2 separate regions of the Homo sapiens genome follow, and region 1 is linked to region 2. A link means that fine-mapping ties the variant in region 2 to the expression of a gene that starts in the linked region. Tissue or cell type: whole blood. Region 2 holds a variant in brackets; the other region holds the start of a gene. All regions are shown on one strand. Distances are from middle to middle.

Region 1 (8,177 bases), 46 kb before region 2:
CTTCACCTAGCCCACACTCTATCTGTGATCCTTCTTTGCCAGTCCCTTGCTTTTTCCCTTTGGCCTCCCATCTGTGTTGATTGCATTTCCTCATTGATGTGCTGCTTGGTTTGTCAGCTTGTTTAGTGTCTGATGGGCCATTGTATTTCCTTGTCACCTAACTTGCCTTCCTATGTTGACCTCCACCTTCCCCCCTTTTCAAGACATTGCTTTTCATTTAGTAAATATAATTGAGGTCCTAATGTGTGCCAGGAACTGGGCTAGAAGATGCATACCCTGGCCTCATGTTGCTTAGAGTCAGCTTGGCTTTGCCTAATGGAAAAAGGGTGAGATACAGATCACAGTCTTTGGGAATGAGAGCTCATCAAAACAGAAAACAGACCCTCAGTGTCTTGTGTAACTTGGTTTCCATAGCCCTGGATGCTGAGGAATTGAGTTCTAGATTGCTGGTGGGTAGCACTTTGAAGAAAACAGAGCAAGAACATACCTTCCCCAACACTGTCTCCTATGTCAGTTTTGCCCTAAGGAAGACAGCATGGAAGGTGGAAGGCAATTTGAGAAAATGATGACAACTTTCCCAAGAGAGAAGAAGATGGTTGCAACCTTGCTCTCTGCTGGTAGACTTGAGTGGACCTGGGGATGGGGTGGTTCATGTGCCCTGATACAGATCTCAGATGTAACTGCTGCTCTTTTAACTAGTCAAGAATCTGGAGCTCAGAATGACCAAAATAAGGAATGCAGTATATTTTAATAGAAGTTTTGTTAAACAAGACATTCCTGCCTATTGCACTTATATTCCACTTTTTCAAACTTTTCAAAATCACTAACGTATTTGCAATTTTAAATGCAGTAGAAGGTTAAAATAATTAGATAAAGGAATGGATTTTTTTTTTTTTAAACATAGTCTTGCTCTCTCACCCAGGCTAGAGTGCAGTGGCTCAGTGATGGCTTACTGCAACCTCCTTTTCCCCGGTTCAAGCCATCCTCCTATTTCAGCCTCCCGAGTAGCTGGGACCATAAGCACGCACCACTATGCCTGGCTAATTTTTGTATTTTTTGTAGAGACGAAGTTTTGCCATATTGCCCAGGTTGGTCTCGAACTCCTGAGTGATCAACTCACCTTGGCCTCCCAAAGTGCTGGGATTACAGACGTTAGCCTGCGTGGTCCGGGGATGGAATTTTAAGTTGAAAGAATAAAACAATCTTAGGCCAATTGTAGATTTTCAGAAGAGAAATGATACATGAAAAATACCATGAAGTATCTTTCTATGGTTTACTGATACACTTGGAGCATTTTAGTTCATTAGAAAGATGGGTTCAGGGGTGATCATCTATTTCAACTCCACTATTTTAGAGACTGTGGCTTCCAAAGCATTATAATTAAGATGCAGCAAATCCAAGACTGGAGTCCAGATTTCTTCACTTCTAATTTATTACTTATTCACTGAGGTATATGCTTTCCTGGAAAACCCTTTTTGGCTTAATCCCCATTGTTTGAAACATTTTTATTGTTTCAGAACATTTCTTTTTATTTAGACCATAGTGAACGATAAGTGGATATTTCTTTCAAGGTGTGGGCTCTCACTGTGGAGTAGGGGCATTTTGGGGGTTATTCTTAATGCTCAGTAGAATTGACATAAAAGATAAGGGATACTGGGTTGACTCTATATTGATCCAACAATATTACCTGAAATTTCAAAAAAAAAAGGTTCCAAATTCCTAATATCATATTTTCTTAAAATTTTTCCTCTGGGAATTAAACTCAGAAAAATATCCACATAACAAGGGAATTTGGTTATTTTTGTGTAGCTATAGTTACAGAGCATCAAACGTGGGAAGAAAACAGTAACTATTCTTAAGGAAATTTCACCTTTAGAGGGAAAGTACTGTTGAAAATTATTAGTAAAGCTGTTTTTGCACGTGAGAGGTATTTTATCCAAAGTTCTCTGACTGATCTACAAACATAAACTTAGCCCTTCTCACAGCAGTACTTAGCTTCTAACCAGATAAATTGTTTGCAGGAGCTCTATCAAATTTAGAAAACTATAGAGAAACTACATAGAAATCTATACGTATGTGTCTGTATTTGTCATCTTAGATGAAGGATGTCATTTTCCTCATCTGTAATGTGATGTTATTGTATTACCTCCCTAATCTTCTTTAGAACTACTTAGCTTTTAACATGCAACTAGTAAAAATTGATCAGTTTGTCCAAGAATTCTGGCATTAGACTATAATAAGAATTTATGAGAAAATCAGGAAATCATGTTCAGTTCAAAGTAAACAGTGTCAGAACTATTATTATAATTTTTTTTTTTTGAGACAGAGTTTCGCTCTGTCACCCACGCTGGAGTGCAGCGGCACAGTCTCGGCTCACTGAAACCTCCACCTCCCGGGTTCAAACAGTTCTCCTGTCCCAGGCTCCTGAGTAGTTGGGACTACAGGCGCATGCCACCACACCTGGCTTTTTTTTTTTTAAGTTTTTTGTATTTTTAGTAGAGATGGGGTTTCACCGTGTTAGCCAGGATGGGCTCTATCTCCTGACCTCATGATCCACCCGCCTCGGCCTCCCAAAGTGCTGGGATTACAAGTGTGAGCCACCACGCCCGGCCAATATGATTATTATATTATATATAATATATATAATTATTACCCAGAAGATAATTTATTTGGGGAAACTACCATTTCACAGAATATAGAGAAAGCATAAATTGAGGAAAATTTGGTGATAAAGCAAGACGCTATCAGAGTCTTCCTTAGGCATTGACTCCATAAAACCCACAGGCTGAAACTGAAGAAAACTCAGAGACAGGTTTTAAAATACACAAAATTTGTTCATCTGCTACAGAAGATTTTTCTTCTTACCGCTTTTAGCAGCTTTAAGAAAGCAAAATGCCATTAACCTCTATTAAAATAAGAGGTAACAGGGTGTACCTGATGTGCTATTTACATGCAAGGTGTTAGGAATAGAAATTGCAGGACCTCCAGGAGTTCGAGGCCAGCCAGGCCAAGATGGTGAGACCCCCATCTCTACTAAAAACACAAAAATTAGCCAGGCACGGTGGCGGGTGCCTGTAATCCCAGCTACTCGGGAGGCTGAGGCAGGAGAATCGCTTGAACCAGGGAGACGGACGTTGCAGTGAGCCGAGAATGTGCCACTGCACTCTAGCCTGGGCAACAGAGCAAGACTCCGTCTCAAAAAAAGAAAAAAAAAAGGGAAGAAATTGTAGGACCTGAGCCAGAAAAAACTCATTTGGTCGTCTCTGAAAGCCTTTAGTCTTTACAAGAATTGCCAGAATCAACTGATGGTGTATTCTCTTGTCACTGCAGCCCAATTGAGACCACTGTATTTAGTTGTCTGTCCCCTTAGATCCACAATATTTTAGGGACTCCTGGCACCATTCCATAGTAGGAAGAAAAAGCTAACATAATTCAAGTTACCAAAACTGGGGTCTGGGGAGAGAAACTGATAGGAACTTCATCTACACTTTCTCATAAAAACTGATACTGATAACATAGCAAACAAAAAGTACAGTAAAAACAAAAAGATGACACAATACGCTTCTCATTTATTTTATATTTATACAAACAGCGCTTCCCTGAAAAATCAGGGTATCGTTCAAGATTTTATCTTTATTCACAGAAGTTTTAAAATTTTTAACTTTTATATGCACAAGACAGTTCTGATTTGTTGAATTAAGTGACCGCGGGTGTGCTAATGCTTCTAAAAAACAGCATTAGCCTTCTCCCATCAAAAGTCCGGAAGCTGCCCTTCAGTCGTCAAAGTGTTTGCCTTAATTTGCAATCGTTATGACTTGAGCCAAATGCTTATACCTCATTTGTGTCGTATATGTGAAGATACAATTGCAAATCGTTCACGACCTTGAGTCAAGACCTTGAGTTTCCTGAGGTCAGGAGACCGTTAGGGAATGTGAGTGTCCCAGACGGGCGCTGAGCCCAGCTCGGAGACCCACCCCGCCCGTAGCAGCGGCGCGGGCCCCAGAGAGCCCCGCACTCGGCCGCGCCTCAGTTACGCTGACTCGGCTGTGCCCGCAGTGTCGCGCTGTCGCGTAGCCAGGTGTCGCCGGGCTGGCGCGGTTATTTATGACTGCGTGGTTGGGCTGGGGGTTCGGGGCCGGGGAGCAGCCGGGATCCGCCGCCTCTTCCATGATCTTCCCGGGCCGAACCACGGGACCGCTACGCTGAAGGTGGCGTCGCGGGTCCCCGGGGCCGCGCGAGTGTAGGGGTCGCTCTCGGCCGGCCGCGAAGCTCGCGGCACCGACTTCTCGCGAGATTTCGGCGACCCCCCCCCCCGCCCCCGCCCCTCCGTTCTCTGCCCCCTCCCAGCTCTGGTGTGGGCGGCCTCCGCTATGGCTGCGCTGCGAAGGCTCTTGTGGCCGCCACCCCGGGTGTCTCCTCCACTCTGCGCTCACCAGCCCCTCCTTGGGCCGTGGGGGCGGCCTGCGGTGACCACCCTGGGCCTTCCTGGCCGGCCCTTCTCCTCCCGAGAGGATGAGGAGAGGGCTGTGGCGGAGGCGGCATGGAGGCGGCGGCGGCGCTGGGGGGAGCTGAGCGTGGCGGCGGCGGCCGGCGGGGGGCTGGTCGGCCTGGTATGCTACCAGCTGTACGGGGACCCCAGGGCCGGCTCGCCGGCGACCGGGCGACCCTCAAAGAGCGCGGCCACGGAGCCCGAGGACCCGCCCCGCGGCCGGGGGATGCTGCCCATCCCAGTGGCGGCTGCCAAGGAGACGGTGAGTGCGCGAGCGCGCGTCACACCTGCGCGGGGGATGTGACCTTCGTGCCGGGTACGCAGGACCCTGGAGGCTGTGGGGACGGTGCAAGCGCTGTGGCCGCGGGTGAGGAACTTCCCGTGAGCGAGGCTGACACCTAGGCCGGACAGCCTAGGATCCGGTCACCCACGTATTGGGAAGACCAGTGATGCTGTCCCTGATGCATCAGGACCTTAAAGGTGGCTGCAGCTACCAAGTATCAATCCAAACCCAAAACCAACACCCCTCCCCCTCTTACAAAAAAAGATTCAGAAATGAAGGCCATGACAGGCAGAAAGTGGACCGCTGTAGGTGTGGGAAAAAGGAACTCCTAGATTGCGCGGGGCGACAGCTAATGACCCAGGAGGTCTGTTGCATTAGAATGAGTTTCGAAGCAGCGGTCTGAGATCTCAAAAGCCACTACTTTAGCATATGAGAATTTATTAGTCCCAAGAAAGGAAATGCTAAACCTGCATGCTAACGCCCTTATCATACCCAGGGAATGTTGATGTTACCAGGTCTGAAAAGAAATAAAAAATTGTTCAAAAAGAGACATAAGTATTTCTCTCTTTTTCCTTCCCCCACTAAAGCCAGAATCCCGTTAGTAGGTAACGATAAAACACAAAATGGATAGGATAGCAAATGTAGGAGGCTGTGAATGACACAAACTCCTACAGAAGAAAGTCACGTGAAAATGTTCAACTGTCATTATGTAGTTAATAATACAAGGTAAAGATGTGTGAAAGGCAACAGTGAGTAAAGGAGCGTGATTTTTTTTGTCGCATCAGTATATTTAATAGTCATGTAAATGACTAGGAAAATTAAGGAGATTTTCCTTGCAAGGCTCGAAGAATGTGAACGGCGTAGATGAAAATAATTTAGAAAACAGAGAGCTATGCTGTTTCTAATGCAATTTTTATAGGCTTTGTTCTTAATACGCAGTGGTGATCTGATGTAAGTGCATCATTTCCTTTGGTGGAGGTTGTCAATGCAATTAGGTTACGGAATCTGCTTTATGGACTATCTAGCAGCAGATCACAAGCACATAACATAAAGTCCTTTTACACATGAATATTCAAAATACTAGGAAATACCCTCAAATCTCCACCCCCTCCCCCTTCACAAATACACATCCACTTTTGTGGCTTGGCAAGGAGCATAGCGTTTTTCATGATGGCAGAACTTTTAATTAACCATAGTTGGTCTAGGAACAGATCAGCAAGGTAGGGAATTCAAGTAGTATTTTCTTTTCTTTCTTAAAATTAATTTTACTTTTACAGTTGAGAGATGTTATCTTGCAGTTTTTAAAAAGACCACGTTCAGAAAGCTAGAACTTTGGCTCCACGACTTGCTACTTGTGTCATTATGGAGAAATTACTTGACCTGTCAATGCCTGTTTCCTCACCTGTGAAATGAGGCTAATAGTCTCCTGGGGTGTTATGAGAGTTAAATGAGTTAACACAGTATATTTAAAACAATGGTACTACTAAAGAACATTAAATAAATTTATTTTTTGGCTGAGCGTGGTGGCTCACGCCTGTAATCCCAGCACTTTGGGAGGTCGAGGCAAGCAGATCACCTGAGGTCAGGAGTTCGAGACAAGCCTGGCCAACATGGCGAAACCTCGTCTCTACTAAAAATACAAAAATCAGCCGGGTGTGGTGTTGGGCGCTTGTAATCCCAGCTACTGGCAAGGCTGAGGTAGGAGAATCACTTGAACCTGGGAGACAGAGGTTGCAGTGAGCCGAAATCACACCTCTGCACCCCAGCCTGGGTGACAAGAGCGAAACTCCATCTCAAAAAAAAAAATTATTTTTTATTCGTTTATTTATTTTGTACTTTTGTGCAGTTATTATTGCTTAGTGTTTATAAAAATTTCTGTTCATTGTTTTAGAAGTCAAATAATGTTAAAGTCCTGTGTCTTATGCTTCCCTAGCCTCTAGTCCTACTTTCTGATTGTCATGCCTTTTGTATTTCCCTCTCTGAAAACTTTTATGATCTGTTTATCCCTGGTGCTTGAAATTTTCACAGTAATGAGCTTCGGGATGTGTATTTTTTCACTGATTGTGCTAGGTTCTTAAGAGGCCTTTCAATATGGAAATCCGTGTCTAAAAAATTCTGTGTAATTTTCTTCTATTGTTTCTTTGATGATTTTTCTCTTCTCCCTCTTTCTATTCTCTTTTTCTGGAAATGCTGTTTCTTTGAAGTTAAATTTCCTGACAGATCCTAATCTAATTCTAATCATTCTTATATTTCGGTTTTAAAAAATATTTTCATCTGTTTATTTGTTTTTATAGCAGATATCCTGGGCTTTATCTTCCAACCTTCCTACTGAATTTTTTTATTTCTGCTATTCTACTTTTTTAATTCAAAGAGCGACTTTGTGTTCTCTGTTGTTGATGAGTTATAGCATTCTATTTTGCTTTCTATATGGCTGCTATATTTTCTCTTTTTGCTGTAAGGATATAAATTATAACTTTGTTTTGCCTTCTAAGGATATAAATTATAACTTTGGCCTTCTCTGTGCATTGCTTTGTTTCTTCCAGGTTCTTTTTTATTTCTGTTTGATTTTATAAGCTCTTGCTTTCATTTTGGAGGTTTTCCTCACATATCTGTGGTTGTTACCTGTCTCTTACTTGAGAACCTCTCAGAGGGTGTCTGTGCATAACATGTCCTTTCATCTGCACGAAAGGGCTTCTTATTAGTGTAACATCCAAATGTCAGTATTTTACAGCTCTTTTTCTCTGATGCTGTTGAGCGTCTACAAAAAATAGGAGAGATGAGAGGTGCAGTAGTCTTCTGGCAGCAGGCACATGTGCACATATATGTAACACCACTTATGTTGGTGAGTATTATGGGCTTCTTATTAGTGTAACATCCAAATGTCAGTATTTTATACCTCTTTTTCTCTGATGCTGTTGAGCGTCTACAAAAAATAGAGATGGGAGGTGTAGTAGTCTTCTGGAAGCAGGCACAGGTGCACATATATGTAACAGCACTTATGTTGGTGAGTATCTAATGATATACTTAGGTATTGTTATCTAATCCTCTGCTTTTAGCCCAACTACTTACTCTGATTCCATAGCTCCATAGTTCCCAAGGCCTTGTCCGTTTTGGGATTCTGTATAGCAAATATTAATACCTTACTTCTATTTGGTCTCTGCAGAACTCAGGTAGTGCCTCTGTTCTCTTAAGTCAATTATCACTCCTCCATCTCTTCAATTTTATAAAAATTTTATAAATTCTCTTGAATGTTTTAGTTTCCCATTCTTTTCTCTATCTTAGCTCTTTTGTATTTTTACCTTTTTATACTCCTTTACTGTGAATTTAATGTGGTTAGGGGAAGAAGATGTTGAAATAGAATCATGGAGTCAATCTGCCATTTTTCAGAAATACTATTTTAGTGGC
Region 2 (8,000 bases):
CTATACATTTGTCCCAACATTTTAAGTTTTACAGTGTTTGAGATCTTTGGGGGTGTGAGGAGGAATCACAAAAAGAAAGTGATCCCTGACATTTTATTCAGCTGTAACACTCTTACTCCAGTGATGCTTCTTGAATAGTTGTAGGGAAGAGTAATGAAACAGGACAAGTTTCCCCATCACTTTGCCTAGCCTCCCTTTCCTTTCTTTTTTTCTTTCCCCAATCCTTCTTCATCCTAGAGAGACCTGACCTGTGAATTACGTCATGGAACACTAGTATAGCAAAGATCACAAGTAATACCTTAAAATTATAGTTTATCTATGTTAATGTTATTTTATATTCTAGTTTGAATATTTTATAAGTATCATTATTTGTGCTTTTAAGCCCACAAGATGTTTAACATGGAGAAAGTTAGCTTACTTTATTAGTCCAGAAAGCCCAAATTAAGATGATACGGCTGTGGAGAAATGTTTCCTGTATCACTGATACTTACTATGAACAGTGCATAGTATATATGAAGCAAATAGATAACATATATAAGATCATATCACAGATCCAAATTTTGAGGTTAAAAGAAAACTTTGCCTTTTGGACATAAAAGTTTGGTTATGAGTTATGGTTGTAGATGGTTAGCAAATATGGATATATATTCCATGAAGTATTTATTATCTAATTATCTTACATTTGTTTATTTTAGTTGCCAAAACTTGGAAGTCACTTTCCAAACAGGTGAGTTAAAGCTCTTGGTAGATATACACAAATTTTATATGTGCATGCATATATACATATATAATTAAAATATATTTCATAAAATATATTATGTATTTTTATATATTTTATGATTTTTTGGCAAATCAAATCACATCAGAGTTCCTTTTTTTATCCTCCAGATTGTCAGAAAATAAAAAGGTGGACGTTTCTAAGGGCTGGTGAAAATGTAGATTACTGGTAAATCTCATGTGTTGGTATACTCACTTTGGAAAACAATTTGGCATTATCTACTAAAATTGGCGATATGCCTACCCTATACCTAGTAAATACATGCCTGCATTTAAATTCTGCAGTAGTGCATGCGCATGTACCTTGTAAAGTTGAACTTGAATAGACTCTGTGATCTAGTAATTTCTACTAAATACACTGGTATCTAGCATATACCAGTGTATATACCTAGGGAAATTCTTGCTTATATGCAGGAGAGGTTCACAAGAATGTTTATAGATTATATATGATGGCCCCAAAACTTTAATATATCAATACTATACCATAAATAAATGTTGATATATTCATATAGTATACTACACAATAGTGAAAACAAATGAATTTTAACAGTGCTTTAACTAAATAAGTCTCAGAAACATGATGGTAAAGAAAATAAGCAGTTCAAAAATACAAAGTATAATTCTATTTGTATAAAGTCCAAAACTGAGAAAGTGAAATCATATTATTTAGGATACATTCATACGTGGGAAAACAAAGGAATAATTAACATTAAATTCAAGAAAGTATTCATCTTCAGGATGATAGCAGGGAATATCATCAGTGATGGGCTCAAAGAGGCTTTAAAGTACTGCTAATTTTCTATTTTTTAAGTTAACTATTTCTTAACTTTAAATTGCATATATATTCCTTTTATATTTTTATAGATATGTTTTTTTTTTTTAAAAAAAAGAATATTAGAAATCTAGGGAACGTCCTTAACTAGTTAAAGGGAATCCTCCAAAAGCCTACAGCAAATGTCATGGTCATTTGTGAAACTTGAGAGACATTGTCTTTAAAGTTAGGTATATTAGTCCCCGTTTATCAGTGGGTAATATGCTCTAAGACCCCTGGTAATGAATGCTGAAAATTTGGAAAGTACTGAACCCTATATGTACTATGTTTTTTCAGTTTGGTAGACGAGAGAACTACTAAGTGCCTAACAGGTGGGTAGCATATACAGCGTGGATATACTGGGTAAAGGGATGATTCACATCCTGGATAGGACAGAGTTGGACAGTGTGAGATTTCATCATGCTACACAGAACAGTGCGCAACTTAAAACTTAGGAATTGTTTATTTTTGGAACTTTCTATTTAATGTTTTTGGACTGCAGTTGACTGAGGGTCACAGAAACTGTAGAAAGCTAAGCCTCAAATAAGGGGGAACTACTGTACAGTGCAAATATGCCTGCTGTCACAACTGTTCCATAGCATTTTACTGGAAGTCTGGGCTAGTATAGTATACTAGGGCTGCTATGACAAAATATCACAGATTGAGTGGGTTTAACACCAGACATTTATTTTCTCACGGTTCTGGGGGCTTGAAGTCTGAGATCCAGGTGTCAGCAGGTTAGTTTCTTCTGAGGCCTCTCCCCTTAGCTTTTAGGTAGCAATCTTCTTCCTCTGTCTTCACATGGTCTTTCCTCTGGGCATGTCTGTGTCCTAATCTCTTCTTATAAGGACGTCAGTCATATTGGATTAGGGCTCATCCTGATGACCTTATATAATAACCTAATTACCTCTTTAAAGAAAGGTCCTCTCTGCAAAACAGTCAGATTCTGAGGTACTGGGGCTTAGGACTTCAACATATGAATCGGGGAGAGGGGCACAATTGAGACCATAATATGTAGTATGAAAAAAAGAAGAGGCTCTAAGGATTAGAATAGAGGCACAGAATAGAATGTGATTGGAAGAAAAATGTAAAAATACATAAATTTTAGATTTGTTTAAATTTAATAAAAGTTTAGCAAGATTGCTACTGGATATAACAGCAATAAACCAAAGTTAAGAAGATGCTCCACACCAGCGAGAGCAATTAGAAACTAGTATTGAATAAAATGCATTTCATAATAGAAACAAGAACTATTAGGTACTTAAAAGCAATGCCTAACAGAAGATGTACAAAACATTATTAAATTATGTTTTTAAAAATACAAGTAAATGGAGAACTGTATCATGTTCATACTGGTAATAAGCCATTTCCTTATGATAATGATCCTCCAAATCTATCTATAAATTCAATGTAACTCCAATTAAAATCCCAACCAAATTGATCCGAAATTAACTTTTAAAATTAATCTGGATGAGTAAGGGCCCCAAAATATTTAGAACAATTCTGAAAAGGAAAGAGGGAAAAAAAACCATTGAGATGAGAATAATGGGGTTGATCACATATCAAGATTAGAAATAGAGCTATAATAAATAAAG[T/C]AGTATTACATCATTGCAAGGATATTTTTAAAAACTAGATCAAGGTAATAGAATATAGAATCCAGAAACAGATCCAGGTATATATAGGTAGATCTGTAAATCAGTGGCAGAAAGATTGACCTCTCAATCATAGATGTTTGAATAATAACTTTTCCATGGAGGGGGCAAATTAGGCCTCAGATTTACTACCATATACAAAAACTAATTTCAGATGGATTAAGTTCTTATTTGTGACAAAAATTCTCTAAGATTAAAAGCAAAAATGAGAGGCATGAGAGGTTTTTTTTTTTTTAGATAAGACACAAAGCAAAACTCAAAATTATTGGCAATGTTTACTAAACTAAATATTTGAAAGCTTAGCATCAAAACACAGTGTAAACAATGTTAAAAGATGTATGATGGATGGGAGGATATGCATGCAACATATCAACAGAAGAGGGTAAGTGTCTTGCAGTCACGTAGAACCCCTTTTTTTATCTTTGTAAAAAAGATTATGGCTTAATAAGAAAAAAATAGACAAATATGCCTACAATGGCCACTGAATATATGTAAAGGAGGTGAACCTTACTAGTAACTTAGGGTGTGCAAATTAAACCAATGATACGATACTATTTGACACCCGCCAGATGGTGAGCTTCCAGAAATCTGACAATACCCATAATTAGCAAGGAGAACAAGAAGGAACCAGGTCAGAATATAAACTGGTGTATTTACTTTTTAATTTTTTTTGAGATAGAGTCTCTCCCTGTCACCCAGGCTGGAGTGCAGTGAGTGGCACGATCTTGGCTCACTCCATCTTCTGCCTCCTGGGCTCAAGTGATCCCCCTACCTCAGCCTCCTGAGTAGCTGGGACCACAGGCACACACCACCATGCCCAGCTAATTTTTGCATTTTTAGTAGAGACAGGGTTTTGCTCTGTCACCCAGGCTGGGGTATATTTACTTTTGAGTGAAATTTGGCAATACCTAATAATGTTGAAAATGCATATGAGAAATCCCTCTTGTAGAAATGCATACTAGAGAAATGTTTTCAGATTTGCCACAGAAATCCTATATATCAGATCGCCCCCTTCCCGTGAAGCTTCGTCTGTATTTACAGCCACTCTCCATCACTCATTGCTCACATTACTGCCTGAGCTCTGCCTCCTGTTAGATCAGTGGCAGCATTAGATTCTCATAGGAGCCCAAACCCTATTGTGAACTGGCATGTGAGGGATCTAAGTTGTGTGCTTCTTATGAGAATCTAATGCCTGATGATATGTCACTGTCTCCCATCACCCCCAGATAGGACCATCTAGTTGCAAGAAAACAAGCTCAGGACTCCCACTGATTGTACATTATGATGAGATGTATAATTATTTCATTATATGTTACATTGTAATAATAATAGAAATAGAGTGCACAATAAATGTAATGCACTTGAATCATCCCCAGAACATTTCCTCTTCCTCCCTCCTGGTCTGTGGAAAAATTGTCTTCCAAGAAACCAGTCCCTGGTGCCAAAAAGGTTGGGGACTGCTGCTATATGTGTTTCCTGAACATCAATTGTAATAGCAAAAATTTGGGAACAATATGTCAATCATCAGGCAGGTGAATGAAAAATTTGTGAAATAGAGAAACCCAGGATAAATGTAGAATTACAGAGTGAAAATGAATAAATACATTATAGCTATGTGTATTAACATGAGTAGAACTAGAAAACAAGGTTGAGTAAAAGGGCAAGTTGCAAAATAATATTAACTGACAGTCATTTAAAGTGCAAATACCTTTTCAAAGGTCCATGAAGTCAAAACTATTTTCATCATAATATTGAGAAGATACTTGTTTTATTCACTGTCATTCTCTCATGAGTGTATGGTGGAGTTTTCTTTTTCTTTTTGGTTTTTTTTTTTATTTTTTATTTTTAGTAGAGAGGGGGTTTCACCGTGGTCTCCATCTCCTGACCTCGTGATCCGCCCGCCTCGGCCTCCCAAAGTGCTGGGATTACAGGTGTGAGCTGCCGTGCCCAGCCTGTATAGTGGAATTTTCTAGAGGCTGTTTGGTAATGATGCCATTGCTCTACCAACTAATGGAATGTGTGTTTGTGTTTTATTGTGTTTTAAAAATTTGTTTTTATTTTCAAATAAATTAAATATTGATAGATATAACCCATATAGACAATATCTCTTTTGGGTCCATAATATTTTTAAGAATGTGAAGAGTTTCCTTTCAGAACTGCTACTATAGACAACTGCTGTGTAGCCATTAAAATAAAAATGAAGAATATTTGACAGGAAAATATGCTCACTATAATATATTAAATGTAAAGGGTAAATTATAAAACAGTATGTAGAGAATGATTTAATATTTGCAGCAACAACAAAAATACTATAGAAATATGCCTAGCTGGAGAATCAGACTAAAATGATGTTAAAACGTGTGTGTGTGTGTGTGTGTGTGTGTGTGTGTGTGTGTGTGTGTTTAACTTGCCACCCCTAGAGACAATTAACTTTAGTCTAAAACTTAAGTTTGTCATCCCTGGATTACAATTAGTTTTTATTTTCTGTACTTACTAATTTTTCTATAATATATATCTATTAACTATAATTTTTTTAATAGTACTTATTTAAGAAAATTACGTAACTCTTTTAAAAGGCAACTATAATTCTAGGAGACTGACTTTAATTCAGCAAATATTTATTTTCTACCTACAATTTAATTCTGACGCTAACCACTCCGAGTTTAAGCATGGTGCCTAACAAGACTGCCCTCATTTCAGATGCTTGTTGCAAGTTTCGGGGCTCCAGGCCACCCACACTCTGACCTTACTGTCTACAAGTCTAGGAGGTTGCCACAGCTCCCCTCAGGTTTAATGATTTGCTATAATGAATCATAGAACTCAGAAAATGCAGTACCTATGGTTATGGTTTTATTAGATAGAATACAGAGTAAGACCAGCCAGATGAAGAGAGAGGGCAAGGTCTGGGAAGGTCCTGAACACAGAGCTTCTATGCCTTCTTTGAGAACATGGAGTTGGGGTGTGTCACCGTCCTAGCACAGCAGCGTGTTCAACAACCAGAAAGCTCCTCTGAGCTTAGTGCTTAGAATTTTTATTAGGGTTTCATTACATAGGCATGATTGAATTATTGGCTGTGTGATTGAACTTAATCTGTAGCCTCTCTCTTCTCCCCAGAGGTCAAGCTCACTAAAGCCCCAACTCTGTAATCACAGTTATTCTTTCTGGTAAGCAGTTCCCCTCCTGAGTCATCTCCTTAGCATAAACTCGGGTATGAACCAAGGATTTAGAGTCTGCTTCCTAGGACCCAGGGACAAAGGCCAAATTCTTTATAATATGGCACTGCTACATACGAAACCAAGCTAGGAGTTTGGAGGAGGGAGAGAGATTCCTGACATGGGTGGAAATATAAAAAATTTAATAAATTTTAGAGGTCCTTAAAGTTAACAGAGAAGTCAAGATGAATGTGTTGATTGGATGATTTAGACCGGGAGAAACTAGATTATTACTAAAATAAGCTACTTGGTGTCAGTAAGGATCTGGGCTCTGTCATTTATTAGTTCTGTGACCTTGGGTGTTACTTATCCACTTTAAGTCTCAGTAAAATATGCATAATGAGGATTGTTTTTAGAATGAAGTTATTATATGAGCCTATTGTCAAACCCATAGAGGGCACCCAATAAAAGCTAGCTTTGATTTTTCAGTCTTACACTGTAGCTGAGTTTAAGTTAGAACAGATGAGGTTGGAAGACATGGAAACAGTTAAAATGGAGAAAGATTAGTTAATATTTATACAGTTACAATAGAGATGGTATAAATTAAGCTATGTAAAATTTATTCAGAATGTTGTTTTTTAAGTTTTTTTATATTTTTTTGAGACAGGTCTCACTCTGTTTGCCTAGGCTGGAGTGCAGTGGTGTGATCATGGCTCACTATAGCCTCGACTTCCTGGGCTCAAGTGATTTTTCCACCTCAGCCTCCTGAGTAAGCTGGGACTATAGATGAACGCCACCATGCCCAGCTAATTGTTTGTCTGTTTGTTTGTTTGTGAAATGGGGTTTTGCCATGTTGCCCAGGCTGGTCTAAAACTCTTGGATTCAAGGGATCTACCCACCTCAGCCTCCCAAAGTGCTGAGATTATAGGCCTGAGCCACTGAGTCCCACCCAGAATGTTTTATTTAATCTCTCAATCTAACAAAAATATTTGAGTTTACTGTTGTCTAAACAATAAACATCCCAGTTTCTCATTACAATTCGGACCTGAATTATTCTGTGCCATTCCTATTCTATAATCAGATGCACTGATTATCTGCTGGCATCTTTTACCTGCAGTGCAGATACAGAAACATGAAAAACACAAACACAAGAATCCACATATGGGCTTCAAGGTGTCCATAAATCCCCTAAAAATGCTGTTCCTGCCTTTGACATACCAAGAATTTTTCTTCCTGCTAGCTCAGCTTTGCAGTTAAACAAAAATGATTTATAAATGTCAGAAAGCATTTTTAGGTACAGCTGCGTCAGAAATGGTTTGTCTGAAATGCCTTCCAAACTTCAATGTGTGTAAAAATTAGAAGATGTTGTTAAAAATGCAGGTTGTGGTTCAGTAGGTCTGGGATGGGCACTGAGATTCTGCATTTCGCACAAGCTCTCAGGTGATGCTTAAACTATTGGGGAGCCACATGCTCTGAGGAGTGGGTGTCAGATCTGAAAATAGAAGTGGGTTCTGTGTTTGTCTAATGTGTTTCTAAGCAGACTAACTTTGTTGTTTCAAATTATTTCAAGTTATCTCACCGTCTTTTAATCATTTTTCTTCACAATTA

What was found. PIP is the estimated chance that this variant, and not a neighbour inherited with it, causes the effect.
Region 1: it holds the start of MICU3, and the variant in region 2 is fine-mapped to the expression of MICU3 in whole blood (INTERVAL, PIP above 0.99).

What each region holds. Positions count from the first base shown.
Region 1 is chr8:17,022,910-17,031,086 of GRCh38, forward strand. MICU3 (mitochondrial calcium uptake family member 3) reads left to right here and starts at 4,329. Exons shown (of 15, transcript NM_181723.3): 1 at 4,329-4,751. The coding sequence starts at 4,371. RefSeq lists a silencer at 4,307-4,716 and an enhancer at 4,867-4,956.
Region 2 is chr8:17,068,993-17,076,992 of GRCh38, forward strand. It overlaps MICU3 (mitochondrial calcium uptake family member 3), which reads left to right. Exons shown (of 15, transcript NM_181723.3): 3 at 696-727. Among named protein-coding and RNA genes, the nearest start is that of MICU3, 46 kb to the left of the region's middle. The variant T/C (reference allele first, on the strand shown) is at 3,184.